Linked DNA regions of Homo sapiens. The protein of the gene in region 1 interacts with the protein of each later gene in a biochemical or structural test. Each region holds a gene or a part of one and is shown on either strand. Other genes may lie near its edges. The genes, in order: PDZRN3, JAG1, ARHGEF12, NRXN3, MTMR1, LRP4 and HTRA4.

Evidence for each region.
Region 2: the proteins of PDZRN3 (region 1) and JAG1 interact in a test that uses a peptide from one of them, tested with the Homo sapiens proteins (one large-scale study listed by IntAct).
Region 3: the proteins of PDZRN3 (region 1) and ARHGEF12 interact in a test that uses a peptide from one of them, tested with the Homo sapiens proteins (one large-scale study listed by IntAct).
Region 4: the proteins of PDZRN3 (region 1) and NRXN3 interact in a test that uses a peptide from one of them, tested with the Homo sapiens proteins (one large-scale study listed by IntAct).
Region 5: the proteins of PDZRN3 (region 1) and MTMR1 interact in a test that uses a peptide from one of them, tested with the Homo sapiens proteins (one large-scale study listed by IntAct).
Region 6: the proteins of PDZRN3 (region 1) and LRP4 interact in a test that uses a peptide from one of them, tested with the Homo sapiens proteins (one large-scale study listed by IntAct).
Region 7: the proteins of PDZRN3 (region 1) and HTRA4 interact in a test that uses a peptide from one of them, tested with the Homo sapiens proteins (one large-scale study listed by IntAct).

The regions. Positions count from the first base shown.
Region 1 is NC_000003.12:73,614,666-73,618,909, reverse strand, and holds part of PDZRN3 (E3 ubiquitin-protein ligase PDZRN3), read left to right. Parts: intron 1-4,244. UniProt on the Homo sapiens protein: E3 ubiquitin-protein ligase. Plays an important role in regulating the surface level of MUSK on myotubes. Mediates the ubiquitination of MUSK, promoting its endocytosis and lysosomal degradation. Might contribute to terminal myogenic differentiation.
Region 2 is NC_000020.11:10,642,721-10,646,810, forward strand, and holds part of JAG1 (protein jagged-1 precursor), read right to left. Parts: intron 3,365-4,090; coding exon 3,251-3,364; intron 2,750-3,250; coding exon 2,636-2,749; intron 2,537-2,635; coding exon 2,423-2,536; intron 2,260-2,422; coding exon 2,143-2,259; intron 1,665-2,142; coding exon 1,637-1,664; intron 1,144-1,636; coding exon 1,058-1,143; intron 1-1,057. UniProt on the Homo sapiens protein: Ligand for multiple Notch receptors and involved in the mediation of Notch signaling. May be involved in cell-fate decisions during hematopoiesis. Seems to be involved in early and late stages of mammalian cardiovascular development.
Region 3 is NC_000011.10:120,471,932-120,476,175, forward strand, and holds part of ARHGEF12 (rho guanine nucleotide exchange factor 12), read left to right. Parts: intron 1-1,118; coding exon 1,119-1,196; intron 1,197-2,628; coding exon 2,629-2,704; intron 2,705-3,408; coding exon 3,409-3,576; intron 3,577-4,244. UniProt on the Homo sapiens protein: May play a role in the regulation of RhoA GTPase by guanine nucleotide-binding alpha-12 (GNA12) and alpha-13 (GNA13). Acts as guanine nucleotide exchange factor (GEF) for RhoA GTPase and may act as GTPase-activating protein (GAP) for GNA12 and GNA13.
Region 4 is NC_000014.9:78,168,718-78,173,408, forward strand, and holds the start of NRXN3 (neurexin 3), read left to right. Parts: upstream 1-1,655; 5' UTR 1,656-1,957; intron 1,958-4,691. UniProt on the Homo sapiens protein: Neuronal cell surface protein that may be involved in cell recognition and cell adhesion. May mediate intracellular signaling. Functions as part of a trans-synaptic complex by binding to cerebellins and postsynaptic GRID1.
Region 5 is NC_000023.11:150,727,896-150,732,139, forward strand, and holds part of MTMR1 (phosphatidylinositol-3-phosphate phosphatase MTMR1), read left to right. Parts: intron 1-2,213; coding exon 2,214-2,315; intron 2,316-2,629; coding exon 2,630-2,713; intron 2,714-3,574; coding exon 3,575-3,724; intron 3,725-4,244. UniProt on the Homo sapiens protein: Lipid phosphatase that specifically dephosphorylates the D-3 position of phosphatidylinositol 3-phosphate, generating phosphatidylinositol. Could also dephosphorylate phosphatidylinositol 3,5-bisphosphate to produce phosphatidylinositol 5-phosphate.
Region 6 is NC_000011.10:46,855,721-46,859,798, reverse strand, and holds the end of LRP4 (low-density lipoprotein receptor-related protein 4 precursor), read left to right. Parts: intron 1-483; coding exon 484-816; 3' UTR 817-3,082; downstream 3,083-4,078. UniProt on the Homo sapiens protein: Mediates SOST-dependent inhibition of bone formation. Functions as a specific facilitator of SOST-mediated inhibition of Wnt signaling.
Region 7 is NC_000008.11:38,983,798-38,987,009, reverse strand, and holds part of HTRA4 (serine protease HTRA4 precursor), read right to left. Parts: intron 1-3,212. UniProt on the Homo sapiens protein: Serine protease.

The DNA.
Region 1 (4,244 bases):
GGGCCATTCCATAGTATATCTAACAAAACAGCGCACTTCTGCTAAAAAAAAGTTACAGATTGTCACTTCTATTTCATTTCTGTGATTTATAAGGAAAATTAGGATTTGTTTTACAAATATGTTACCCAGCTACACTGGATTAAATGAGTATAACCAGACAATTTGAATTGGCAATTCTGTTGAGATTTGTCTGTAAGTGGCTCTTTCTGTGTTCAGAAATGGTGCTTGCCTCGCTATAAAAATATTTGATGAGTAAGAATCTATTTATAAGGCAATTATGCATTGGACCGTAGACCAAGGAGCTTAAAAGAAAAGAAAATAATATTCATTGAGTTCCACTGGGTGCCATACACTTAAGGTGCTTTCTGTATGTGCATACATTATCTTCTCCATGTTCTTCATTAGATAGACCTCTTTTTTTAATGGGAGTAGCAGATTATGAAAGATTAAGGCTAGAAGTTAGATTCTAAATGTAGAGCTGGGATTTGAACCCAGTGTGGCCCATCTCCGAGCTCACACTGTTACCAAAATAAGAAAAGAATTTTTTCCTGGGGCGGTGCCCTTCTCTGAAGTCTCACACAGGCTTTCAAAGCACCATTATTATGTATGCCAAGTACTGTTTGGATTGGAGGTGTACATGCATTATTTTATTTCATCCTCAGAAAGACCCTGCAAGGTCGGTGCTCTTACCCATGACTCTTTCCTTCCATTTTACAGATGAAAAAACAGAAGCTCAGAAAGTTAAATAACTTGCCAAGTGTCCTCCACTGGCTCATGTTAGTTTGCCTGTTGGCTTCTGGTCCATGAAATGTTTTCATCCCATACCATGTTCCCATTTACATAGGTCCAGTGTAGAGCACATGGAGTACAAAACAAAACAGATCCTGGCTGTGAAAGAGATTTAGGCTGGGCATGGTGGCTCACGCCTGTAATCTCAGCAGTTTGGGAGGCCTAGCCGGAAAGATCACTTGAGGTCAGGAGTTTGAGATCAGTCTGGCCAACATGGTGAAACCCAGTCTCTGCTAAAAATACAAAAATTAGCCAGGTGTGCTGGTGCACACCTGTAGTCCCAGCTACTGGGGAGGCTGAGGCAGGAGAATTGCTTGAACTCTGGAGGCAGAGGTTGCTGCGAGCCAAGACCAGATCGTGCCAGTGCACTCCAGCCTGGGCAACAGAGTGAGACCCTGTTAAAAAAAAAAATAGATTTAGACAAAAAAGAGATGATGTCCTGGATGGAATATGAGAACAGCTCTTTAATTTTTATCCTGGTAATTTTAAGAGTGGTTAACAGTAGGAATGAAGTGAAGTTCTTCCAAATGTATTCTGCAGTTTAGCTCCTCACATTCTCATACCCCTAGTGCCAGGCCCTGTGGTAGGCACCATTGGATAGAAAGGTAAAACTGAGCAGCTTTAACCCAGGGGATCAATCAGACACCCACATATGCCTTTGAAAGCACAAGTCTTACTATTCTTTGCTCACCCAAGCTTTTATGCCATGGGTTAGCCTCTGTCTCCCCTTGACTAATAGTGTCCTAATAAGCCTGTTACAATAAGAAAGGGAAGTGGTATAACATAATGATTACTCTTGTAAAGAAAATAACTACCAGATGGACCTGAGCAGCCATCTTTCTCACTCATTCCATCCATATATTTACAGGGAATTTAAAGAGCAGAGGCACCGCGTAATCTTTGTATGTTGCAGGCCTTGCAGCCACCCCATCCCCAGGAAGGGCAGTGATGAGCTTTTCCCCTGGCATCAGCAGTGTGTGTGCAGAGAAGAGTCCTGGGCAGGAGATCACCCCTAGTATTTTGCTAAAAGCTGTTTTTAGGTGCCCCGTGTCTTTGCTGTGTTTGGATAGGTGAGGGATGAAGTCCCATCAGATCGTGGGTGAAGGTTAGATGCAGGCGTTGGGTCCACAGGCTGACTCCAAGGTGCCCTGAATAGAGCTAGTGTATTGCGTGTGGTTAGTATCCATATCCTGGGATCAGCAATATTCGGGTTCATGTGTTCTCTTTGCCCTGTTGTTGAGGGCCCCTGGGAGGCTCTTCTAACCTTCAAGCCTTAATTGCCTCACCTCTAAAATGGGATCATAATATGCCTGTTGTTAGGGTTGTTATTAAGATGAAATGAGATGATGTACATAAGGGCACAGTAAGTCTTATCAAGCATTTCTTGACTGTCTATTAAGTGCTGGACACCTGTAGGATTTTAACATTTTTTCAAATAAATCACTGAAGAAAGTTTAGGAATTTAAAGCAGTTGTTATCTAGAAGAAAAGAGATTGTTACTCAATAATTTGGTTTCATTGTAAGCCTCCTGCTGCCCCTGAGTAACCCATTCTCTGGATTTCTATCCTCTGTCTGTTTTGCAGTGGTGGAAATGTGTGAAAGAGGGATATTCAAGTTCATTTGGGCTAAGATGTAAAGGTGGAGGGCTAAAGCTTATGAATAACATATGGGTTACAGAGTTGTTTATGTTTTTCCCACCCAAATTAACAAAGCTATGGAGAGACTGGCCAGAAAAACCTCCTACCTTCATGTAAGCAAGTGCACTTATGGTTTTTTAGATGAGTAGCCTTGCTTTCTATCTTAGTCTATTTGTGTTGACATGAAGAAATACCTGAGGCTGGGTGATTTGTAAAGAAAGAGGTTTGTTTGGCTCATGGTCCTGCAGGTTGCACAAGAAACATGGCACCGGCGTCTGCTCAGTTTCTGATGAGGGCCTCAGGCTGCTTCCGATCATGGCAGAAGGCAAAGACTAGCCTGCATGTGCAGAGATTACATGGAGAGAAAGGAGGCAATGGAGAGAGAGAGGAGAGAAGTTCCAGGCTCTTTTAACAACCAGCTCTTGCAAGAACTAATAGAGCAGAGCTCACTCTCTGCCCACCACCACCCTGGGACAGCATTAATCTCTTCATGAGGTGTCCACCCCCATAACCCAAACACCTCCCATTAGACCCCACCTCCAATGTTGGAATTAGATATCAACAGAGATTTGGGGGGACAGTCATCCAAACTATAGCACTTTTTTCTTTATTTAGGGAAGAAAATGCTTCTGGTTGGTAATTGGATGTATACATTTGAAAACCACTCTGTCTTAGGCCATTTAGGCTGCTGTAACAGAAATACCAGAAACCACTCTGTCTTAGTGCATTTAGGCTGCTGTAACAAAAATACCAGAAATTGGATAGCTTATAAACAACAGAAATTTATTTCTCGTAATTTTGGAGGCTAGGAACCCCTAGATCAAGGTGCTAGCAGATTCAGGGTCTGGTGAGGACCCACTTACTGGTTCACAGATGGCTGTCTTTCTGTTGTTGTGCTCACATAGTAGAAAGGGTGAGGGTTTCTCTCTTGGGCCCCTTTATAAGGGCACTAATCCCTAATCACGTCCCAAAGGCCCCACCTGCTAATACCATCACTTTGGGGATTAGGATTTCAACATATGAATTTTGAGGGCACATAAACATTTAGATCGTAGCACACCCCATAAGTAAGTGGAAGTGTTAAGATGCTGTAACACCTTAAAGGTTTGTTGGTGTCATTTTTGGTGAAGCATTGCTTGTGGTTGTTCACCAGAAAAGCAGATGAGTCAGTGACAAAAATGAGAGAGAAAATTTGAAATCAAGCTCGTGGAAATAAGAAATTAGACATTTATGGATTTTTTCAGGTTGTGTAAATATAGTAGCAGACTTTTTTAAACGAGGAAAGTACTGAAACGTCTTCTCATATTAGTTTTCAAAAATATCTCGTTTGGCTTAGGACCATGTGAACTATTGTGCAGATATTATGACTCTGGAAAAGCTCTTGTTTTTTTTTCTACCTGTTCCCCCATGCCCTTTGTCTCCCTTCATTCTCTCTACACCTTTTTCTGATGACAGAAACATCCTATTAATACTTTTGTTGAGTGTCTCATCCAATTTCAACTTAATTTCAAGCACCGTCCTTATGACTACCTTCAGTCTTAGGCTTTGGAACAGTTTCCTCTTATGTTCTTCTGCAAGAATCACTTCCTTAGAGCTGGGTTGAATTACAAGGCAGGGCTGGTCCAAACTGCTTCACCATTAAGAATTTTAAAGTTTTAACTACAAAGAGGACAAAAGCATCTGAGCATAGGGAGTGAAGACATCAGCAATTCTTCAGTAAAGAATTTCTGGCAGCCAGCTCTACCTCTTGGTCCCCTCAACTCCCATCTCTGCACATTTTTGCCTGGAAACAGCCAAATATACAGTGCTTTCATGTCA
Region 2 (4,090 bases), on another chromosome or scaffold:
AGGTAAGCAGCATCCAAAAGAAGAAACAGATCTATTGCAAAAACCTCCAATCACTGGCTCCCAAAGACCACCACCATCCTGAGTTCTAACAGTGGAGAACCATTTTGGGAGGCAGCAATTTTTAATTTGATTCCTTTGACAGTGCAATTTACAGCAAGCCTGGCAAAGTTTCCTGGAAGGGGTCAGACAGTAAACATCTTAGGCTTTGTGGGGTATATAGTCTCTGTCACAACTATCCAACTCTTGTGGTATCATGAAAGTAGCCATAGACAATACATAAATGAATGTGTGGCTGTGTGCCAAGAAAACTGTATTTATAAAAACAGACAGTGGGCTGGATACGGCCCCTGGGCCACAGTTTGCCAACTGTTTATTTAGAAACATGAAACAGATACAACCTGCCCCCATCTAGTGCTGAAGACTAGTTAATCCCAGACTTGGATTTCAAGCACCAGTAAAATTTCAGACAATTTGGGTACAAGAATCAAACCATAACTACTCTAGCACCTTTTTTGTTCTGTAAGAGAAAGGGCTTGTAAAAAAGTAGAGAAAAGGCTCAAAATAATATGCTTTAAGCCTCTTGAAAAACTGCGTTGCCTGCCCCTATTTTCCTGTTTTAGTCATTTCTCCAGGGCCTGATCAGACCCAGCACAGACAAGCCTCTGGAAGCCACAGTCGTCCTCCCTTCCGTTTGTATTAGCTTTATCCTATACCAGTGTAGCTGTGGTTAACATCTGCTTGCCCATAATTTCATGTTAGTCATGGGGAAATGCACATACTTTCTTCAGGACCCCACTGTAGATTAATCATCAGATTCTGTGACTGGCACTCTCTCCCCAAGAACAAGGAGGGCTACACCACCCAGGGAACTACCAGCAGGTACCTGGGAGGATCCAGCCTGGCATATCTTAATCCCAGCTGGAGGAGAGAGATCCTTTGCTCTATGAGAGCTACTTAAAGGGAATGGTGGCTTTGTTTTTAAAGATGAAAGTCTTGGGGTGAGGCATGGAATGAAGCGGTAAAGCCATTGGGAAAACCAGACGGAGACAGTCCTTACTTATTCTGCAGTCGGGCCCAGCAAAACCCGGGGCACATTCGCACCGGTACCAGTTGTCTCCATCCACACAGGTGCCGCTGTTGTAACTAAGAAAGCAAAGACCACCTTGGTTACCAACCTCCCAGTCCATTACTCTGGCTGCCAATCACTCACATGTCACCACACCAGTTACAGTCAGTGGCTCTCACCCCATGGCCGTTGCCTGGGGAATTTTAAAAGAATACTGATGCCTGGGTCCCACCCCCAGAAAGTCTAATTTCACAGGTCTTGGTTGCAGCCCAGGCAGCGGGATTTTTAAAAGCTCCCAGGTGATTCTGGTGTGCAGCCAAGGTTGAAAAATCACTGCTCTAAATGAGGACACAACCTGGCTAATTAAAGTGTGGTCCATGGGGCAGCAGGATCGCTTCACCTGGGAGCTTGTTAGAAAAGCAGTCTGAGGCCCCACCCCAGACCTCCTGACTCAGAACTTGCATTTTAAACACAATCCCTGGGTGATTCTCACACACACACACACACACACACACACACACACACACACGATAGTGGATGAGTGCTGGCTTAAAAGGATGTCACACTTACCAGGGATGAGGGCTGCAGTCATTGGTATCTGCAAAGAAAAGACAACTTAATAGTGAGGACTTCAACAGGGAAAGCGGTCTTAGCCCTAAGTAAAACCACCACTTATTTTCCTAATACCCAAATGATAAAGTCGTAGTTAACACCAGCAAAATACCTTTGCTAAATTGGAACCAGGCCCGCACCACACTTAGTTTCATTTGCTGTGGGACACATGTACACAGGAAGAGGCCCTGGTAGGGGATAGGGGTGGGGGTGAGAATGGAAGGAGACAGGCTGCTGGTCAGACCCAGAGCTGGGAACTGAGACGCCATCTGTCTCCACTTATCTTATTGGCGACTTTCTCATGCCCAGGTCAGGGCTGTATCCCATCAAGTCATTAATGCAGACCCAGGTGATACAAAAGCAGACATCAAACAGCTCTGCTTCTGGTTTCCATTGCAAGTCCCCAAGGGTGTCAGGATCTGCTCCGACAGCCCTGGGAGAGTTCAAGGGGGGAGGACACTCACTCTGAGCACAGATGGGCCCCTCCCAGCCTTCCTTGCAGACGCACGTAAAGGACTCGCCGTTGACCACACATGTGCCCCCATTATGGCAGGGGTTGGGCAGGCAGCTACTGTTTCGGGCTATAAAAGAAGAGCAGACACGACCACCCTCCCTGAGTATCCAGAAACAGTCTGGAGGGGCAAGAACCAGGCCCAGAGAAATATCATAAGCTCCAGGGGCCAACCAGCAGACACGCCCAGGTGGCCATGCCCACTGCAGATCCCACGTGGGGCATAAAGTTACCTATGTTACAGGTTGTTCCTTCCCAGCCGCCAGGACACATGCACTTAAAAGCATCCCCCTCATCATAGCAGGTGCCACCGTTGTTGCACGTGGCCTCATCACACTGACTGTCACCTGGAGGAAAATATTTCAGTGTGAGTCCCAGTGGCCCCCTCCCACAGAAGACAGAGGGAAGGGTCCCAGAGATAGCATCCAAGGCCAACTACCACTTACGTGAGTGGCAGGTCTTTCCTTTCCACCCATTTTTACAGTCACAGTAGAAGTCATTGACCAGGTCGCGACACGTGCCCCCATTGTGGCAGGGGTTCTGGCTGCAGTCATTAATATCTAGAATCAAAGGGGAGACAATCGGCTGAAGACGAGATCCAGGACCATTCACGACAGGCGAGAGCCAAGCCTTTCCTACTGCTTACATCCAACATCCTATTCTGAGAACAGCCACAGTCGTAGTACTTTAACACAATCAGGCTTTTCCAGGAATAAAGGAGCTCCCAACTGGGTTACTTTGAATGCCACAAGTTAGGCAAGATGTGGGGTGGGCCTCTGGAAGTCCCATGGAAATGAAAGTAGAAATATGACTTTCCTTGCAAGCAGGAATATTTATTACACAGTCTAATTCTATAGGTCCTCAGCAGAAGCTCCTCCCCATAAGCTATCATCAGGACTCATAAATGCAAATGAGACACAAGTGATACTGTCCCAGTGCAGAAATCACTGCGGTCTTGCTTCCAGAGATTTCCAGTACAAAGAAAGTTTTCCCACGTTGAAGTGGGATCCCTCCAACATGACCCATACATCCCAGAGCTCCCCAAAGAGTGGCAGACTCACTGGTTTCACAGTAGGCCCCCTCCCAGCCGTCACTACAGATGCACTTGTAGGAGTTGACACCATCGATGCAAGTGCCACCGTTTCTACAAGGGTTGCTCTCACAGTCATTAATATCTATGAAACAAAGTAAAGCAAAAAAAGAACTGAAGGACTTGTGAAGCCATAGACAAGCACTGTTCAGCAGTTTTCATGGCTCCCTCCTGACACAATGCACCTGGCACCTCCACCTGCTACCCTCCATCAGGGCTGTTTCTCAAATTAGACAGGCGGCTTATCAAGCAGAAGCTTCCAGAGAGTGCCTTACCCACTTAATGCCCTCACATGGGCATTTAGTCACCGGTACTAGGTGAAAGTGGGGAAGAAACTCCTACAGAAAAGAGGAATCACCCAACCTAGCAACATTCCAGAATGTTCCAACATAGATATGGAGGCTCCGAGGCAGAGTGATCTGGTAAATTGAACACGACCTCAGTCTTAGATCCCAGATGTAAGGATAAGTCTCAACCAGTCTCCCCAGCCTTACTGTTTCTGATTAAAACAATTTCAACACTGCTGGGCATGGTGGCTCACACCTGTAATCCCAGCACTTTGGGAGGCCAAGTTGGGGGTCGGGGGGTGGATCATCTGAGGCTGGGAGTTCGAGACCAGCCTGACCAACATGGGGAAACCCCATCTCTACTAAAAATACAAAATTAGCTGGGCGTGGTGGGCGTGGTGCGCATGCCTGTAATCCCAGCTACTCAGGAAGGCTGAGGCAGGCAGGAGAATCGCTTGAACCTGGGAGGCCGAGGTTGTGGTGAGCCGAGATCGTGCCACTGCACTCTAGCCTGGGCAACAACA
Region 3 (4,244 bases), on another chromosome or scaffold:
TTTAAGTCCACTTTATTACAGTATTGTTTGTTACAGAAGAGTTGAAGTAACTTAAATGCCCATCAGTAAGGCGTAATGAAATAAATTATAGTTTATTCAGAGAGTTTTACATCCTGTAGTCATTTATAAAAAAATGAAATAACTCTCTATATGTGCTAATGTGGAACAGTCCCCAAGATATAAGTCATACACCACACACACACACACGTGGGGGAATACGTATATGAATGTATTCTACCATTTCAATGAGGAATACATATAGGAATACCAAAGGAATGCATATATGAATATATTATGCTACCATATCTTGTTTTAAAAAAGGACATATACACACAACATGCACAAAGACAAGCATACTTATATATACATATATAAATAAATACATATCTGTTTGCATAGAATTTTTCTCAAAGGCTACCCAAGAAATGGATATTAGTGATTGCTTCTTTAGGGAAAATTGAGGGGGGTGGGGCAATAGGACAAGGTTAGAGGGAGACTTTTTATTTTTTGCCTTATATAGCCATCTGAATTTTGTACTGTGTGCATGATTTACATATTCAGAAAATAAATATAAGCTAATAAGAGACCAATGACTTTGAAAAGAAGATTGAGAAAGAAAAGCCAAAGAGGCAGGAGGAAAACTAGGAGAGTATATTATCACCAAAGCCACGGGAAGAGAGTGAGTTTTCAGTCCTGTCTAGCATTGCAAAGAGCTCAGTAAAATGGAGATTTTTTTTTTTTGAGATGGAGTCTTGCTGTGTCGCCCAGGCTGGAGTGCAGTGGCGTGATCTCGGCTCACTGCAAGCTCCGCCTCCCAGGTTTGCACCATTCCCCTGCCTCAGCCTCCCAAGTAGCTGGGACCACAGGCGCCCGCCACCATGCCCGGCTAATTTTTTTTTATTTTTAGTAGAGACGGGGTTTCACTGTGTTAGCCAGGATGGTCTTGATCTCCTAACCTCGTGATCCACCTGCCTCAGCCTCCCAAAGTGCTGAGATTACAGGTGTGAGCCACCACGCCTGGCCAAAATGGAGATTTTAAATGCCAAGTTTGATTCAGAAATAGAGAGGTCATTAATGACCAAAGCACTAACCTTGGTTCCACCCTGCCTAATTTTCAGCGCCTAGAAGATTATCAGCGTCGCCTTGATACCTCCAGCCTGAAGTTGTCAGAGTACCCAAATGTTGAAGAGCTCAGGGTGAGAGATGGTCTAATCATAATTTAAAAAATAAAATAAAATTTGCTAAAGACCTGGCAGGTAATTAACATCTCAGTGGGAATATACGTCACCTGAAGGAGTTCTTGTATCGTAGATTATCTGTATTTATGATTTTTTTTGCTGCCTTTTAAATGCTTGATCTGTATGAAATTAGTTTTTCATTAGAGGAATATCTTGCATAAAACTGTAATATTACATGACAGCAATTGGCAGGAGACTAAGGGACACTAATTATTATAAAATTTAATTTTATTGTGTTCTGTAGTTTGTTTCAGACAGGGTCTTGCTCTGTTGCCCAGGCTGGAATGCAGTGGTGCAGTCTTGGCTCACTGAAGCCTTGGCCTCCTGGACTCAGGCAGTCCACCCACCTCAGCCTCCCTAGCAGCTAGGACTATAGGTATATGCCACCATACCCAGCTAATTCTGTGTTTTGTAAAGACAAGGTCTCGCTGTGTTGTCAGGTTGGTCCAGATTTCCTGGGCTCAAGTGCTCCTTTCTCAGCCTCCCACAGTGCAGGGATTACAGGCATGAGCCACTATGCCCAGCCTGTGTTCTGTAGTTTAAATAAGGGTAGGACTGTTTGGTAACTTTCCAGATCATTTAATAACACAAGATAGCATACTATTTTCTCATGAGGCTCTTCAGAAGCATAAAAGTTGGAACCATTACAGGAACGATAGTAAAATGTTTACTAATTGCCACTTCTAGTATGTGGGCTTATGTGTTAACTTTTTCGGATTTTAAGTGTTTTTGTACCATTTCACTAGGTGGTGGTTTTGGCAGATTTATTTGGTGGCTGTTAAAATAGACTTTTATGTCATATATTAATACTTCGTCAACAAGCACGTAAATGTGCTTATTCCCCTTAGCTTCCAAAGAATGAGAGTTTTCTAGAGCTGCTAATACTAAAAGATGATTCTCTTACTAATAAGTTGTTAATATTTAGACCAAGTCTGAGTAGTACCTGGACTTTTCATGAGTACTATTTCTTAGAACTTTCTTTGAAATTAGAGCCTTGGAACTCAGAAGCCACTTTCTTATAGACAAGCATATGTACCATGCTCATCCAGTTATTCATAGGAAAATTAAAGGATACGTTGAGAATCTAGTGACTGAATGTTTGTAACTTGATCTTCATAATCTGTTATCATCTGTTTAGAGTGAGGTTTGAAGATAGTACTCCTGAATGTTCTTCTGCAAGATACCTTTTCCTTTTTAGAAAATTGTATGCAGATTACTTTAATATGGCTTTTGTGCCATTTTCAAGAACTGACAAATAGCAATAATGATAGTTGAATGTAAATGGTGTATTTTATATTAAGAATTTCTTTAAAAGAGACTGTATTATATAGATAATCATGTTACTGAGTGCTTGGAAATTATTTGTGCATGATTTTCTTTATTTTGCCAGAATTTGGATTTAACAAAAAGGAAGATGATTCATGAAGGGCCATTGGTTTGGAAGGTGAATAGAGATAAAACTATTGGTAGGTCTGATATTGTCTTTTAGTTTTGGGGAGAGTGGCAAAAGGGAAGGAATAGGAAAGTTTCCTATGACAAAGGGAAGAGGAGAGAACCATTCTCTCAGCAGTTTGCAGTGCTACCTCGTGTTATTTGTACATTTGTAGATCTGCTTGTGTTATTTCATTATATGTAAGATGTGTTAAATATTCATTTAGGAATGTAGTGGAGAACTGATTTAGTCCTATTTCCATCATTCTTATAGTCTAGTGAGTCTTTGTATGCTTTGTAAGCTTTCTTTAGACCAGTACATCTTAAACTGTCTGTGATGAGGAACCGTTTTTGTTTTTTCAGAAACAAGGTCTTTCTATGTTGCCCAGGCTGGAGCACAGTGGCTAGTCACAGATGCAGTCATGGTGCACTGCTGCCTCGAACTCCTGGGCTTAAGGGATCCTCCTGCCTTAGCCTCCCTAGTAGCCGGGACTATAGGCGCACAGCACCACACCCAGCTTGTTGTTTTTTATTTCCTATTGGTCACAGACTGACACTTCAGTGAAATAAAATAAAAATGAATTACTGAAAATGAAATTTTAAAAGATAATATACAAGTCAATTTTTAAAATTTTGTAGCTTTAACAGAAATAGAATTCCTCTGTTGAATCATTATAAAGTTAATCAAACGCGTCTCCATTTCTGTACTTACCATTTTTTTCTGCACTTTTATTTCTAGATTTATACACGTTGCTGCTGGAAGACATTCTTGTATTGTTACAAAAGCAGGATGATAGACTGGTTTTAAGGTGTCATAGTAAGATTCTGGCATCTACAGCTGATAGCAAACACACGTTTAGCCCTGTCATTAAGTTGAGTACAGTGTTGGTTCGACAAGTGGCAACAGGCAAGTATGTCCACTGAAGGATACTAATTTCCAGATTCATTGTGAAGTTGCATAAGATACTCGGTGCTGTCTCAATAACACAAGTGGCATAGAGTCTTGCTATTTTTATATTCTTAAGCAAATTACATGAAATTTACTGCTTAGAAAGAGACCTAAGAGTTTATACCCCAAAGTTATTAGGGTGTCTCGATTCTGTGAACAGTTTTCTGCATTTGAAAATTTTTATGCTATTACTTTGGTTCTTTATGTTCAAATCATTGATAGATCCCAATGAAAAGCCTTTCATTTAGGGTGGTATGTTTTTTGATTTGGTGAGAAAAAAATCAAAAACCAAAGAGACGGATGTAGTGTTGATTAAAAATCAAATTTGACTGGCAAGTTATATTTTAACTCTATTAACAACGGGGTCCCTTTTAAAACTTGTTAGTTTCATGGTGGCAAAATAAATTTGTGACCTCTTTTCTCCACTACTCACTGAATATTATTAACTAACAACTTAGCAAAAGTGCAGTTCAAAATAAATGCAAAAGAGTAATAGCATTTAATCTGGTAATTTGGATTTATTTATTTTTTTTCTTTTGAGACGAGGGTCCCACCCTGTCACCCAGGCTGGAGTGCAGTGGTACAACCTTGGCACACTGCAACCTCCACATCCCAGGCTCAAGCAA
Region 4 (4,691 bases), on another chromosome or scaffold:
TTCGTTTGTGTTCCTAAAACTACTGGATACCGTGGAGGTGTTGAAGGCTGGAGACCCGAAGACACATAAGAAAATGAGATTGTGATCTGAAAGGCAAAATAGACTGAAAAGTAGGCTAGTAATGATGGAAGTGCATATGTCCGTCTAGTCCCAGCCCAGATGCCACTTTAGTCCACCAAGCTTGCCTTGATATCCCCCACCTCCAAATCACAATTAATCACTTGCTTATCGACAATCCCATAGAGCTTCCTTTACATTGCTCTCATGATTATTTTCCCTTTGCTTTATAGAAACACATTTCTGTCCTCCTCCAATGCTTAGTGGAGTCCTTGGGGTTCAGACCTTGATAGATTCATTTTGTTTCTCATGAGCATGATGCCGGGTACATGTGCTATTAAAGTTTGCTGGGTCAGGAAAGTGCTAGGATGCTGCAAGAACATCCAGTAAAGGGCAGAAATATAAGAACTACCATCCTTGGCTGGAGGCAATAGAGTACTGTGGCTAACAGGCAGGCTCTGGAGTGGGATAGACTTGAGTTCAAATTCATTCTTAGCAGCTTCCAGCTGTGTAACCTTGGGCACCCTCTCTAAAGCTTCAACTTTTAAGACTGTGGAATGGATCTCAACTGTCAAATAGCACAAACCTCACTGGACTGAATGAGATGACCCACGTAGTGGCATATGGTAAGTGCTCAACAGCTATTAGTGGATTGGTGCTGGTCCAAGGGAGGACATGCCAGTGCAGCCCTTAAAAAGGGAGCTGGAGAAGAAAGGAGTTTGGGGCTGCATTTTCACATAAGGTGCCAGGGCCTGATGCTGAGCAAAACCTTTGTATTGGGTGCCACCGACTGTCATCTCTTGTTTAGGTTTGACTGGGGAAACGTTTCCACAGACATGAACTAGTTTGTCAAGGCTGGCAAGGGATTTTCAAGGGTTTAGGGGTGCAGTCTAGGCTCAGAGCTCAGAGTGCAAGCCACAAAAGAGAGCCATCTTCCTGAGTCACCAAAACACTTGATTCGGGCCTCTGACCCTTAGCTGGCAGCCCCTTAGGATAGGATGGGCTGTGCCTGGGTCTGTCTTTGCTGCTAGGGGCTCTGAGAGAGGAAGCCCCATTTGTCACTTTCATTTCTATGTCCCCAGCCCCTTGCAGTATGCTTCATCCTAAGCAGGCATTCAAAGTGCTTGTTGAAGGAATAGATTTGTGTCCTAGTTACAGCCCTGACTTCCACTAGATGCTCAAAGATTGCCCTGATTTTGCAAGGAAGAGCAACTACTCAGGGAAACTGAGGCACACTTGTAGGTTAGAGTCCCTCAGTCTGCAAGGAGACACACACATCCTCAGCAGTGGGGAAGTGGTTTGGTTACTGAAGCTGTAAATAAGAATTTTGTCTTTATATTAATTCCTACTCTGATTCTAGGGAAGAACTCTCCTCTCAGGCTGGAGTAAGGGGAGAACTGAGCTCAGACACTGCCTCTTAGTTGTGGGGGCTGCAAACTGCCCCTCCCTCATGATATCTTCTCAGCTGTTTGCAAAACAGTCAGGGAGGAGGTGAAGCCCTGAGCCAGGCGGCCTGTCTGTCTCTTTAAATGCTGGGGTCTGTGTGGGAGAGGGAGGGGCCGGCTCTGGAGTGCGTGAAATTCCTGGGCTCCTCCAGCAGTCTCAGGCTCAGCGCTCAGCCCTACACATCGCCTCTTGCATGCAACTCACAGAGAGGGAGAGGCAACCTGTCCTCCCCTCTCTCAGCCTCGGCATCTCCAGCCACCAAGGACCTGCTTTTCGCACCTCCAACAACCCCTCCCTTCTACCCTGCCACTCCCTCCCAGAGAGAAAGGAAAAGGAGAGAGAAAGATTCTGGAATTTGAACCTACCCAAAGAGGAAACATACCCAGCAAACTCAGTTGATTAAACATCAAACAGACATACAGACAGATCCCAAATCTTCTGTTCAACTGGAAAGGTAAGGTTTGCGGGGAAAGGAAGGCAGTCAGGGCATGAAACAACTCAAGGTTCTTGTCCGTTCTGGGAAGAGGTTGCTCCTGAGAGGGTAGAAGTTTTCAGTTGGGAGCAACCAACCTAGATTTTCTTTTTTGAATACTGTATCCATGAGCCTTGGCTGACTGTGGAAATGGCTTTTCAACTGCCTTTCTTTTCCTTCAGTTTCTCCTGGAAGTTGGGTCCTTTTCCTCCAGATGTTGGAAAAGTCAGAGAATGTTTTAGATTTTTATCTTCTTCTTCTTTTTTTTTTTTTTTTTTTGAGTCTTTCTCCTATTTGCTTGAATTGTTAGTCTGAAATGATGTGTGCTCATCACTTCATTTTGGGCAGATACTTTTTTTTTGACATTTTGTAGTCACTTCCCCCCTCATTTATTCATTTATTTATTTGGGCTGGTTAAAATGAGAAACAGAAAGGACACTCTGAGGATCACAAGAAAACAAAATTGAATTGAGACAGGGATTTCCCTAGCTGTTGAGGAATTGACGTGTATGTGAGTGTGTGTGTGCTTTTTTTTTTTTTTTTTGAGGGGGTGTGAGGAGGTGGTCCTAGAGTCTAAAAATTCAGGTTGGACTCCTGTCTTGTGAAGGTGGGCATACTTGGAGAAGGTGAAAAGGGAGTGTGTGTGTGAGTGTGTGTGTGTGTGTGTGCGCGGGTGTGTGCTCCTGTTTGGATCGGTTACAAGGGAATCTTCCTCCACTGCCTTCCATTTGTTTATATTAATGATTTAGTAGCAGGCTTGCCTGAAAACTTCCACTCTGTGTAAGCACTGTGGGTTTTGCAAGCTCTCAGTGACCTTAAAGCCTGGTTCGATGTATTGTTTTTTCCAGGCATTGTGCTGTACCCAGAGTTTCAGCTCTTTCCCTCTCTCTTTTTTAACCACAAAACTTAACTGCTTTAGAAACATCATCCTGATGACAAGGAAAAAAATGTGTCCCCCCACCCCCCATCCCTTCTTAGGCCAGTGATGTAATACCAACCTAAGGGCTCGGCTGCTTTGCAGGTGACTTACCCTGTGATTACTTGTTAAAAAAAAATAAAATTTTCCCTTCCTCCATTAAATGTCTGCCTCTTTTAATTTGGATGTAGAAATATCATCATGCAATGAGAACATCATATTTTTGCTAACCATTATTGGGGTTTAGGTAAAGTAGGATTGCTCTTCTCTGATCTTTATTGTTAATACTTTTTTTTTTAATGCAAAGGTCAGAGATCATTGAGAGCTAGCTTAGGATGGAGCAAGATAGAGTCAGGGCAAATAAAAGAGCTGGTAGGACAAGAGCTGTCTTCTCCCCGCTTCCTTCGGTTCCCGCTTTGGGGAGATAGTTTTTCTTTTACCACTACAAGCCACCCCAACATTCTTCTTTCTTCCTCTCCGCTGGGTCCTGTGGATGGCCCTGGGAGGGAGAGGGGGCACTCCTTGTCACACCTGGAGGATGGTGTAATTTTGGGGGTCAGATGACCGTTTGCCTTTGTGATGAAGGTTCCAGTGGAAATTTGAACTCCCAGCACGCTGCGTGACTTGGTACCCAGGATAGTCTATCTGGGGGCACCTGGAGGTTAGTCTGGGGAGGCTGGAGAACTGGCTCTTTATTAATTTGCCGTTCTGGGTAGAGCCTTCCTTCATCGTTCAAGGGCTTCTGCATCGCCTTTCAAGTTAAAATGGTCCCGCTGGTTATGATGGGCAAGTTTACCTAAGGGCTACTGGGTATGTGGCGGAAGGATGGAGGGGAGTGAGAGGAGGCAAGGCTGGTATTTATTTTTTAATCTTCGGGCTTAATCTGCCTAAGTCATATGGGGCAAACGATATTTCAGACGGGTGCTGGTTGTGCAGATATTCCTATTGTTTGATTTTTTGTTGTTGTTGGGGAGTGGAGTAAGGGCTCTTGGCCCATTTTCTGCAGCCTGAGGTTCATCCTGCGAGTCAGTCTTCCTTCTGGAAGGGGGGGAAAAGGCTGGACACTGGAAGTTCGCTATTAAAGTGAGCAACAGGGCTGGGTTTATTTTTTAAAAACAACCGGACTGTGCGAATGCCCTTTTCTGGAGCTTTCTGGCCCTTTCTAGTGAAATAATAATTTAAAAAAAATTGCTTCTTGAGAAGAGGAGGGGGCAGAAATTAAAGGGATTCTAGATTTTGAGAGACAGCTACGTCTTTGCTTCTCTGGTAGTTCCCTATTATTAATTATTGGGGTTTTGACGGCGTTCTGGCCTCCGTTTTTGTTGATTTCATTTTAGTGCTGCGTTTCTCCTGACTATGTTGATGATTTGCTGCTTATATAAGGGAAAGGATGTATTGAGGTGGACTGATGCTTGGGGTTTTGAGATCGGCTACTGAGATTGGGTGGCGGTTGGTGTGTTTGTCGATGTGCATGGTAGGAAGGTCTTTTCTTTTGGGTGGTAGGGGATGAGAGAATGGTGGGAGAACGGTAGATGAGATGCTACAGCAAACGGGGATGTGGGGGGAGACGGAGGTGAGGTTGGAAGTCACCGGTTTGCAGAATTTCTATTCTGCACCCCCCTTTCTCTCGCTCCTGGAAAAAAAATCCATTATCTATAAAAACACATTATTCTTCAATTGGCCTTTTAGAGAAAAAAAAGAGAGAGGGAAGGGAGGGGTTAATTTGGTGAGGGGGCTTGGTCGTAATTAGCCCACTGCTGCAAAACTGAGATACAGAAATCCATCGGCACCAGCTTTGGG
Region 5 (4,244 bases), on another chromosome or scaffold:
CTAGTAACTCAAATGTTTTCGGGATAGCAACCTCTTCAAATCTCATATCGAATTTAAACTATTATGTAACCCTTTGAAGTAAACCTTTTCCATCGAAGTCCAATTGTCCCTTGGTATCGGTGGGGGATTGATTCCAGGACCTCTGCCTCAGATACCCAAATCCATGGATGTCCAAGTCCTTTATGTCAAATGATGTAGTATTTGCATATAACCTAAGAACATTCTCCCATATACTTTAAATCATCTGTATATTGCTTATAATAACTAATACAGTGTAAACACTATGTAAATAGTTGTTATACTGTATTGTTTAGGGAATAATGACAAGAAAAAATGTCTGTGCATGTTCAGCACAAATGCAACCATCCTTTTAAAAAATATTTTCCATCTGCAGTTGTTCGAATCCTCCAATGTGGAACCCATGGATAGGAAGGGCTGACTGTATTTCTAATTAACGTGGACCTATAACCTAAGTGATTGTTTGTCACATCTCAGAGAAGTCAAGTGAAAAGCAGAGACCAATACATTTCCCCAGTTTGTTGTTTTAAGACTACGTTCAGAACAATGTGGATGGTCAGAGACTTCCTAAAGGGACAGCAGTGGCCCATAAATTCTGTGATTAAAAATGAGATTAAGTTTCTTGGCTATCTTGGAATTTTTATGTTGAGCTGGGCTTATTTGTTTATTTTGTACCCTTCTTCTAATAATTTAAGTAGAAATGTGTGTGATAACTTTAATCACGAAGTCATGTAGGACCCACTCCTAATTGATGTATTTTATTCCCAGTGACTTGACTTTGGTAATGTTTACCAAAAACCCTACCTGAAGTACCAGAAAAGAGATCCTGCCTGCAGGATCATCAGCGCCCCTTCCAAATTTTGGGTTAGGATTCCTTACAATCTATTTATTTTGATTCAATCTCTGAAGATAGCTCCCTCTGGTTGGTCCTAGACTGCGTTCAAAACCATTTTTTTTTTTTCCAAAGAACCCTTTACTCTTCCAGATCATGAATCTGTTGGCTTACTAAACTCACTTTAGTCACTCCCTGACAACTGTCCTTCTCAGGCAGGGTTCCCCATATGGAACAATGGCAAGCAGAGGGGTGACTTGATCGGTTCTGCAATTTTGAAACATGTCGTCCCCTTTCTCATGACGCTTGAGTATCTTCCCATTATCCTTAGACTAAAAGAAAAACTCTCCTTACAAGACTGCTCTGCCTGACCCACTTTCCTCTGCAGCTTGGTCTCGAACTGCCCTCCTCTCATTCTGGCCATCCCAGTCACATGGGCTTTCCTTTGGTGGTTCATACTTGACACACCCACCCACACACACACACACACACACACACACATCCCAGAATCTTTGCATGTGCTCTTTCCTTAGCTTGTAAGCAATCTTAAATAGCAAGTCAGCTCAGTCAGCCACCAAGGTGTATGTGTGTAGCCATGTAGCTTAGAGGGAGGGCATGTCAGGAAATTATGTTGCTTAGGCAGGCATCCTGGGGCTCTTTTACTAAGATATTTTTATGGCTGGGGTGAGCATTTGCTAACAACTGCTTTAAATGTTCTCTAACCTAGATTACTAAGGTAATGCTCCCAGCCTTCTCAGATCATGCCTAAGAGCTTTACAAGGTGTGGGGTTTATTTTTTAACAGGTGATATACAATTCAAAAGATACAAAAGCTGTGTATAGTAAAAAATCAGTCTCCTTCCACCCACCACCCTGCCACCCTGTTCCACTCATTTCAGGCACCCACTGTGGCCGATTTCTAATGTAACCCTCCACAGATAGCCTATGCACATGAGAATGTATGTATAGTCCTTCTTTGAAAACATAAGTGGGGCCAGGCGCAGTGGCTCATGCCTGTAATCCCAGCACTTTGGAAGGCCGAGGCAGTTGGATTACGTGAGGTCAGGAGTTTGAGACCAGCCTGACCAACATAGTGAAACCTTGTCTCTACTAAAAATGCAAAAATTAGCCGGTAGTGGTGGTGGGTGCCTGTAATCCCAGCTACTCGGGAGGCTGAGGCAGGAGAATTGCTTGAACCAGGGAGGCGGAGGTTGCAATGAGTGGAGACTGTGCCGTTGGAGCAGGATAAAGTATAAAAGGAGAAATGAATTAAAAAAAAATAATTTCCTTATTTATGGCACGGTATCTGGCTTATAGGTGCCTGATGTATGTTGAATAACCGAGTTTTGCTAATTGTTTAACAGGATATGAGGAACTTGCGGCTTGCTTATAAACAGGAAGAACAGAGTAAACTAGGGATATTTGAAAACCTCAACAAACATGCATTTCCTCTTTCTAACGGACAGGTAAATACACCAGAGTAAACCTTTTCTGCATGCATTTGTGGGGGTCCAAATATCCTATGTTTAATTATTCCTTTTTCCAGAGGTTTTTTTTTTTCCTCTCTTTTTTCCTCTGTTGGTGACTAATATTAGAATATTTGAAATTTGTCAGTTCTGGGTAATGCTTAAGAAAAGCTGCTACTTTGTTGCTGTAAAATTTACAGACTAAAATAGGAATCTTAATACACTCAGCTCATATTAGAATGAAAAGCTTTAATATTGGGTATATGATATAAAAAGAAATAGTAACATATGTGTTTTGTGGTTTTTGTGTCCAGGCACTATTTGCATTCAGCTATAAAGAAAAATTTCCAATTAATGGCTGGAAAGTTTATGATCCAGTATCTGAATATAAGAGACAGGTAAAGTATATTGCTTATCAAACTGAAAATAATAGGTTGAGCATCTTTTTCTCTTCTAAAAGGTTAGAAATGATGTGGTGGAGAAGAAACTTTTTCGAACAAGTTATGCACAGGTTTAACTGCTAGCTTATAGGTTCTCCATCTTTCCTTGATTCTCTCTTCTCCCTGTGCCAAACCTTAGACTTTGTCATGTTTGTTCATCCTGTTTCCAGAGGGTGAGTGGGACTCAAGGACAAGGACGGGTTTAAAAACCAAATTTGCCAGATGGTTTTTATTAGATGTTCTGGTAAAGAATTGATGAGTAAGGATCCAAACCACTGACTACAGTTAGATTCGAAGCATGTGGTGTGACTACATCTGTCTGATCCAGTGTTCCCGGGTCTGGGAACTCTTCAGTGCATTGTCAGCTTCAAATTATTCCACTAAGATCTTATTTTCATGACGTTTGTTTCATGACGTTGTCTCTACCTTATATTTGGTATAATGTTTTACGTTACTTATTTTAGACATTCGTAAGAGGTATCTGTGTTTCTAAAGGACTTTTGAGTATATTCTCAAAAATAACAGAGCTCATTATTTATAGAAAATAGGACAAGAAATATATAGAAATGTGATTCTAGCGTATAATTTTCATGTTTTAGTATGGTTTGGATATTCTTATGCTTCTTTAGATTTTTAGAAATGTCTAGGAAATGGGTTTTACCGAATAAATATATATATTGACTTTTAAGTTACAATAAACAATAAATTATAAACGGATTTTAGTTGCAAATAAGAAATGGATGTACTTCATGCTTAGTACTTTTTCAAAGTGTAAAGTCATGCATTTCACCCTCTTCTTCTTTCTCCAACACCTTACAGGGCTTGCCAAATGAGAGTTGGAAAATATCCAAAATAAACAGTAATTATGAGTTCTGTGACACCTACCCTGCCATCATTGTTGTGCCAACTAGTGTAAAAGATGATGACCTTTCAAAAGTGGCAGCTTTTCGAGCAAAAGGCAGAGTCCCTGTAAGTAATAAACATTGTCATTTATATAGGAATATATATTGCGTTAGATCTAATATGGAGAGATTTAAGACAAAAAAGAAACTAGTGAACAAAAATGGAAAGCAGAAAAATAAGCTTATAAACCTGAACATACCTTTGATTCTCAACAAATACCTAATTATATAAACAATCTGTTTGCTATGACTCCCTCTTTTACGATTTCCTATAACTAAGTATAAGGGGAACTTCAGTCATACCCTCAAAAAGTAGTAGAGAATGACAAAGGAGTAGCAACAACAAGTTATCATGCTATTGTATTACCAGTTGGCATTGCTGGTTTCACTGAATCATCCTAGAGAAAATGCTTCTTTCTTAGATACTGAGCATGATGCCATAGCTGCGTGGGAGGGACATCATTACAGAAGTAGTAGCAGACAGCTGGGAGTAATGGTTTGAGCCCAGAGTTTGCATCTGTTGTAATCCTGAGTCACTTGGCCACTGGAGGAAAATGAGAGGTGGGGTGGCAGAGTGTCAGATTTTA
Region 6 (4,078 bases), on another chromosome or scaffold:
TATCAGCATGATGTCCCATTAATAAACCACAGTAACAATGTAACATAGCTAACATGTTATAGTGCATCTTGTGTCAAGCTCCCTGATAACTGCATTCCATGTATCATCTCATTTAAGGTGACAGCAGTTGGTTGTGAGGTGTGGATACTGTTACTCTCCTCACACTGCAGAGTCTTAAGAGACTGAGTTTTAGAAATGTGAAATAATTTGCCTAAGGTGACAAAGCCAGTGAGTGGCTGCTGCAGGACCGGAAGCCATGGTTTTCCCTCCTCCTGTATGGTAATGGTAATAATTATCACAGCTGCCTCTCCCCTTTTAGGCTAGGCCTCATACACTTGTCTTAATCACATTTCCCCATTTGTTTGTGGGATTTTTGTGCGCTTCACTCCTACTCTTACCCCATCCACTTCCTTTTTCAGTTTACCATGGGATCCTTTGTAGAAGGCCAACTGACTGACCATATCTGCCCACTCTCCACCCTAGGGAGGGCCTGACCATAACTACACCAAGGAGAAGATCAAGATCGTAGAGGGAATCTGCCTCCTGTCTGGGGATGATGCTGAGTGGGATGACCTCAAGCAACTGCGAAGCTCACGGGGGGGCCTCCTCCGGGATCATGTATGCATGAAGACAGACACGGTGTCCATCCAGGCCAGCTCTGGCTCCCTGGATGACACAGAGACGGAGCAGCTGTTACAGGAAGAGCAGTCTGAGTGTAGCAGCGTCCATACTGCAGCCACTCCAGAAAGACGAGGCTCTCTGCCAGACACGGGCTGGAAACATGAACGCAAGCTCTCCTCAGAGAGCCAGGTCTAAATGCCCACATTCTCTTCCCTGCCTGCCTGTTCCTTCTCCTTTATGGACGTCTAGTCCTTGTGCTCGCTTACACCGCAGGCCCCGCTTCTGTGTGCTTGTCCTCCTCCTCCTCCCACCCCATAACTGTTCCTAAGCCTTCACCGGAGCTGTTTACCACGTGAGTCCATAACTACCTGTGCACAAGAAATGATGGCACATCACGAGAATTTAGACCTGGATTTTACCATGAACCTCACATCTTGTACTCCATCCTGGGCCCCCTGAAACTGCTTATTCGTGATTCCTCACCAGCGTAGAGCTCCACCTCCCCTTTCCCCAGTACCCTCAGTGCCTGCTTCTCAGTGCTGATGCAGCTGATGACCCAGGACTGCGCTCTGCCCCATCACAGCCAGCATGACTGCTTCTCTGAGAGAACTTGCCCATCAGGGGCTGGGACATGGGGGTGTGGGTAAAGACAGGGATGAAGGATAGAGGCTGAGAGAAGAAGGAAGAATCAGCCCAGCAGGTATGGGCATCTGGGAAACCTCCAGCCTCAAGTGTGTTAGTAACATGAAAAAGCTTTGGGGGGTAGTTGGATCTGGGTGTCTGGTCCATTGCTGGCAGTGGACATTATTCTTGCCCTAAGAGACACTGCCTTTTCAGCAGCAGATACTGGTGAGATGGGGGTGGCTCAGGCTGTTCTTCCTCCTCCTAGAATGTCTGGAGCTGTTTCTACATTCAGATAACTGGGTCCCCTATCACAAGGCTACTGGCTAATAGGAATTCCCTCCTGGTGCCACCACTGGCCAGTACCTTTCCTAAGTCTTTGCTCAAATTAACCAGGTTGTGAGCCAGTGGCTTGAGTGAATGTTAGGCCTTGGGGGCTGAGTCTCTGAAAAGTCTAAGAAGCTCTGCCTAGACCAAATATGGTATACCTCCTGACCCCTCTCTCCCTCATGTCCTGGGATTCTGGGGAAGAGACCTAGAAACAAGCTTTCAAAGAAAAACCAGAAGTTGTCATAAATGGTCAGAAAGAACGATCAGGTTGGAGACTTGGGAAACCCAGGGCCTAAAGAGAAGTATCCATGAGGGTCAAACTTCCTGTTGAACTTCCTATGTTCTTTCTCAAGTGCTCAGGGATCTAAGTTAGTGGACAGCAAGCCTGTGGCTACGGGGTGGTGATGTTCCTCTTCCAGCTGTCCCCTCAGCTAAGGGGCTTAGTTTCCATGTGGGATGCCATCACTTGGTTCATGCTCATTCACACAAAGGGCACGTGTCTCAGCCTGGTATCAGGGAAATTGAGACTTATTTTTGCCCTAAAACGTCTCCCTAGCTGTTCTTCGTGGGGTTTTTTTGTTTGTTTTTTTGCCTAATTTGCTTTTTCTGACCAAGCCTTGTGGCACCAGCAATCTCCAAAGTCCTGTGGTGGGAGGGCTGAATAAATAAAAATACAAAGAGGTGGGTAAGGAGTAGGAAGGTAGAGAGCACCACTGATGAGGCCCTCCTAGCCCATGGCAGACCCAGACCTCTTCTCCCCCAGGAATTAGAAGTGGCAGGAGAGAACAACAGGGGCTGGGAATGGAGGGGAGAATTTCTAGGGGAAGTTTCCTGAGTTGAAACTTCTCCTGTGGTTACTGGTATTGAGAAATCAGCTACCAAAGTGAAAAAGGACAAGATCAATTCTTTTCTAGTCAGTTCTAAGACTGCTAGAGAGAGATACCAGGCCCTTAGCCTTGCTCTCAGTAGCGTCAGCCCCAGTTCTGAGCCTCCCCACATTACACTTAACAAGCAGTAAAGGAGTGAGCACTTTGGGTCCTTAGACTCACGTCTGGGGAGGAAGAGCAAGTAGAAAAGTGGCATTTTCTTGATTGGAAAGGGGGAAGGATCTTATTGCACTTGGGCTGTTCAGAATGTAGAAAGGACATATTTGAGGAAGTATCTATTTGAGCACTGATTTACTCTGTAAAAAGCAAAATCTCTCTGTCCTAAACTAATGGAAGCGATTCTCCCATGCTCATGTGTAATGGTTTTAACGTTACTCACTGGAGAGATTGGACTTTCTGGAGTTATTTAACCACTATGTTCAGTATTTTAGGACTTTATGATAATTTAATATAAATTTAGCTTTTCTTAATCACCTTGCCTGGCTTGGAGTCATGACTAATCCTGCACCTGCTCTGTCTGGCAGACCCATGCTGTGGAAAACCTGCTTACAGACATCACTTTTAAGTCCTTTGTGGATGTGGGCACAGTGAAGAGCAATAAAGAGTGTGAGGTTCCTGCTGGAGTTTTCAGCTCATCTGGAGAAGACAGGTCGAGGCCAGAGTTCCTTGACTGATGAAACCTTTATTTCCTCTGGAAGAGGAATGGTAGATGGGTTTCCTCTTGAGTGCTGACTCTGACTGGTTGGTAGTGGCTGCCTGAGGGCCTATTCGCACCCAATGGGAAGAATGTCATATGGCTAGTGACATCTCTTCTGTGCACTGGAAGGAAATGTCATGGCATGTATACCATGTATCTTCTATTTCTGTTCTAGGTCTTTGTTACAGAACTTTACTTTGCCTTGCAGTGATGGTCACTGGCAAGACTATCTCATGTAGTAAGAAAAGTACTGGAGCTGGGGACATGGAGGGCTAATTCCAGTCCCAGATCTGCCACTAGCTCTGTTTGATCTTAGTCAACTTTCATAGTTAGTCTGAGAGTGGATCAAATTATCACTAGGATTTCATTTATTTTTAAAAGCTGTCTTTTCATAGCTCATCCACTACTTCTCAAGGCTAGAACAAGGAGCTAGGGATCCCTTCTCAGGTTCTCTGGATGTGATATCCCTCAGTGAAAACTGGGAATCATGTTAATCTCAACGCCCGATGTAGAATTTCATGTCAAGTCTCAATAGTTGATTTTCTAAACCACACACCATCTATAGGATAATATCCCCATTCATTCATTCATTCATTCATTCATTCATCTGCTATGGGCTAGGCACTGCCCATGCCTAAACAAAGACATAATCTTACAGAGCTTAGAGTCTAGCAACACCATTACCACCACCATCCCAAAAAAAGACAAAAAATGAAAGTAAGAAAGACTGAAGCTTCTTGTATTTAAGTGACCAGAGATCTGAGTATAAGCTACAGTGTATAATTTTTCTAACTGTAGTAAGGAGTAGGTGTGCCAGAACAAAAACAAGTAGAATAGCCCAAGGATAACCATCCCTCCAACCCCCACTGTTCTCTTTGGGAGGGAAAAAAAAAGCAGAAAAGGAGGACATCTTGGGATAAAA
Region 7 (3,212 bases), on another chromosome or scaffold:
CTTAGGACCAGTGAGTACAAAGAAAGAACTTATAGAGAACTTAATTCATACTAGTCCTGTGAGTCAGAAAAGAGAAAAAGAAACCTGCAAATTATTACTAATAACCTATGCACCAAATATGAGGAACTATGGCTCAGACAGGACAAATGACCTTTTTCTGTGTCATGCAACTTGTGAGAGGGATTTCATCCTGGGTCTTTCAGACTTGGGAACCCATCTTCTTGCCACTAAATCACTCTGCCTGTCAGAAACAGAAAAGCAGCCACCAAAGCAGGATAATAGAAGGGTTCAGCCAGGGCCCACATCCCTGCTCTCTGCTCTCTGATTTACTGCGTTCTACAAGTTAATGAACCTCTTTGTACCACAGCTGCTTCCTCTATAAAATAATACCTATATCATAAAATGTTGGGAGCACAAACAGGTGTATAAAACACTTCAAATAGGCCAGGAGCAGTGGCTCACACTGTAATCCCAGCACTTTGGGAGCCACAGGCGTGTGGATCACCTGAGGTCAGGAGTTCGAGACCAGCCTGCCCAACATAGTGAAACCTCGTCTCTATTAAAAGTACAATAATTAGCTAGGTGTGTAATCCCAGCTACTTGGGAGACTGAGGCAGAAGAATCGCTTGAACCCAGGAGGCGGAGGTTGCAGTGAGCTGAGATCATGCCATTGCATTCCAGCTGGGGCAACAAGAGCGAAACTCAGTCTCAAAAAAATAATAATAATAAAAATAAAACACTTCAAATAGTGCCTGAGATATAGTAAAAGTTTTGTAAGTGCCAGATAGTGGTGTAATTATCATTATATTAGGTATAAGTCAGTGAAAGCCAGAAAGAATAGATTTGTTTGAGACAGGTTCTCACTCTCTTACCCAGGCTGGAATACAGTGGTGCAGTCATGGCTCACTGCAGCCTCAAACTCCTGGGCTCACATGATCCTCCTGCCTCAGCCTCCCTACAGGCACCTGCCACCACACCCAGCTGATTTTGTTTATTTTATTTATTTGTCTTTAGAAACTATGTTGCTCAGGCTGGTCTCAAACTCCTGGTTTCAAATGATCCTCCCACATCATGGCATGAGCCACCATGCCCAGTCCTGATTTCTGTTTATCAGCAACTTCCAGCACTAATTTTCACATTTTAACATACACATGAATCACCTGGGGATCTTGTTAAACACACAGATTCCGATTCAGTGGATCAAAGGTGGGACCTGGGATTCTGCCTTTCCAACAAGCCCCAGCTGAGCTAATGACGCTGGTCTACAGACCACATTCTGAGTAGCAAGGACTTAGCCGAAAGAAATAGCTTTGGTCTTGAACCAGAACTTAAGGAAATGGGGGAAGAGTGGAGCAGAGCAGGAATGAGAAAAGTCCAGAGAAACCAGGGACAAGCCAAATTTAGTAACATGAGACCTATGACTGCTGTGCTGAACAGTGCCCTCTGATTTCACTAGGGGGAAAGCCCCAGTGAAAGTGGTGCCATAATCTAAACAGATTACTGAGCTCTTGAAAAATAAAAACAATGAGAAAGGGATAATAAAGAAGTACAGACCGCGGGCGGTGGCTCACGCCTGTAATCCCAGCACTTTGGGAGCCCGAGGCAGGCGGATCACAAGGTCAAGAGATGGATACCATCCTGGCCAACATGGTGAAAACCCATCTCTACTAAAAATACAAAAATTAGCTGCGCGTGGTGGCACACGCCTGTAGTGCCAGCTCCTCGGGAGGCTGAGGCAGGAGAATCACTTGAACCCAGGAGGCAGAGGTTGCAGTGAGCCGAGATCGCATCACTGCACTCCAGCCTGGTGACAGAGCGAGACTCCGTCTCAAAAAAAAAAAAAAAAAAGAAGTACAACAGAAAAGCCCAGGAGAATGATATTTGTAGGACAAGCCACCTCTCTCAGTACTTAGTATTAAATGTTTTGAAACAACAGTGAAATCAGCTGGAGAACCTTCTTTTGGAAGCTGTCCTAGCCTTTGCTTTATTACACAGGTCTTAGCGCTGGCCTCTGATATTGTCATTCAGAGTTCAAAGAAAAATGTAGGTTTTGTGAGGTTTTGGTGTAGTTTTTTTTTGCTTGTTTGTTTGTTTGAGACAGGGTCTCACTCTGTTGCACAGGCTGGAGTGCAGTGGCATGAGCACAGCTCATTACAGCCCAGACTCAGGTGATCCTCCCATCTCGACCTCCCCAAGTAACTGGGACCACAGGTGCAAACCACCACACCTGGCTAATTTTTGTTTTTTGTTTTTTGTTTTTTTAAATGGGGTCTCGCTTTCTTGCCCAGGCTGGAGTACAGGGGCGTGATCCCAGCTCACTGCAACCTCTGCTGCCCAGGTTCAAGCGATTCTCTGACCTCAGCCTCCCAAGTAGCTGGGATTACAGGCATGCGACACCACACCCAGCTAATTTTTATATTTTTTAAGTAGGGATGGTGTTTCACCAAGTTTGCCAGGCTGGTCTCAAAATCCTGACCTCAAGTGATCTGCCCACTTTGGCCTCCCAAAGTACTGGGATTACAGGCGTGAGTCACGGCACCTGGCCTAATTTTTATTTTTTGTAGAGACAGGGTTTCACCGTGTTCCCCAGGCTGGTCTCGAACTCTCAGGCTCAAGCAATCCTCCCACCTCAGCCTCCCAAAGTGCTAGGATTACAGGGCTGAGCCAACATGCCCAGCCGAAAAATGTGTTTTAAAATACCTAAAATATGGCCAGGCGTGGTGGCTCATGCCTGTAATCCCAGTACTGTGGGAGGCCGAGGTGGGTGGATCACTTGAGGTCAGGAGTTCGAGACCAGCCTGGCCAACATGGTGAAACCCTGTCTCTACTAAAAATACAACAATTAACCAAGCGTGGTGGCGGGTGCCTGTAATCCCAGCTACTCGGGAGGCTGAGGCAGGAGAATTGCTTGAACCTGAGAGGTGGAGGTTGCAGTGAGCCAAGATTGCACCACTGCACTGCAGCCTGGGCAACGAGTGAGACTCCATCTCAAAAGAAAAAAAAACTATTAATGAATAATTAATAGTTACTAATACCTAATAGGTGTTAATCACTTAATAGTTATTAAGTAATAACTATTAATGTTGAAAGGGTAGATTTGGGAATTCCTAGCCAAATTAATTTAAACTTATGCTATTAACTCATAACATGAGCTCTTCTTAGACTATAGAGAACCACCTCCCTCCCAAAATACAAAAAAAGCCTTTATAAGT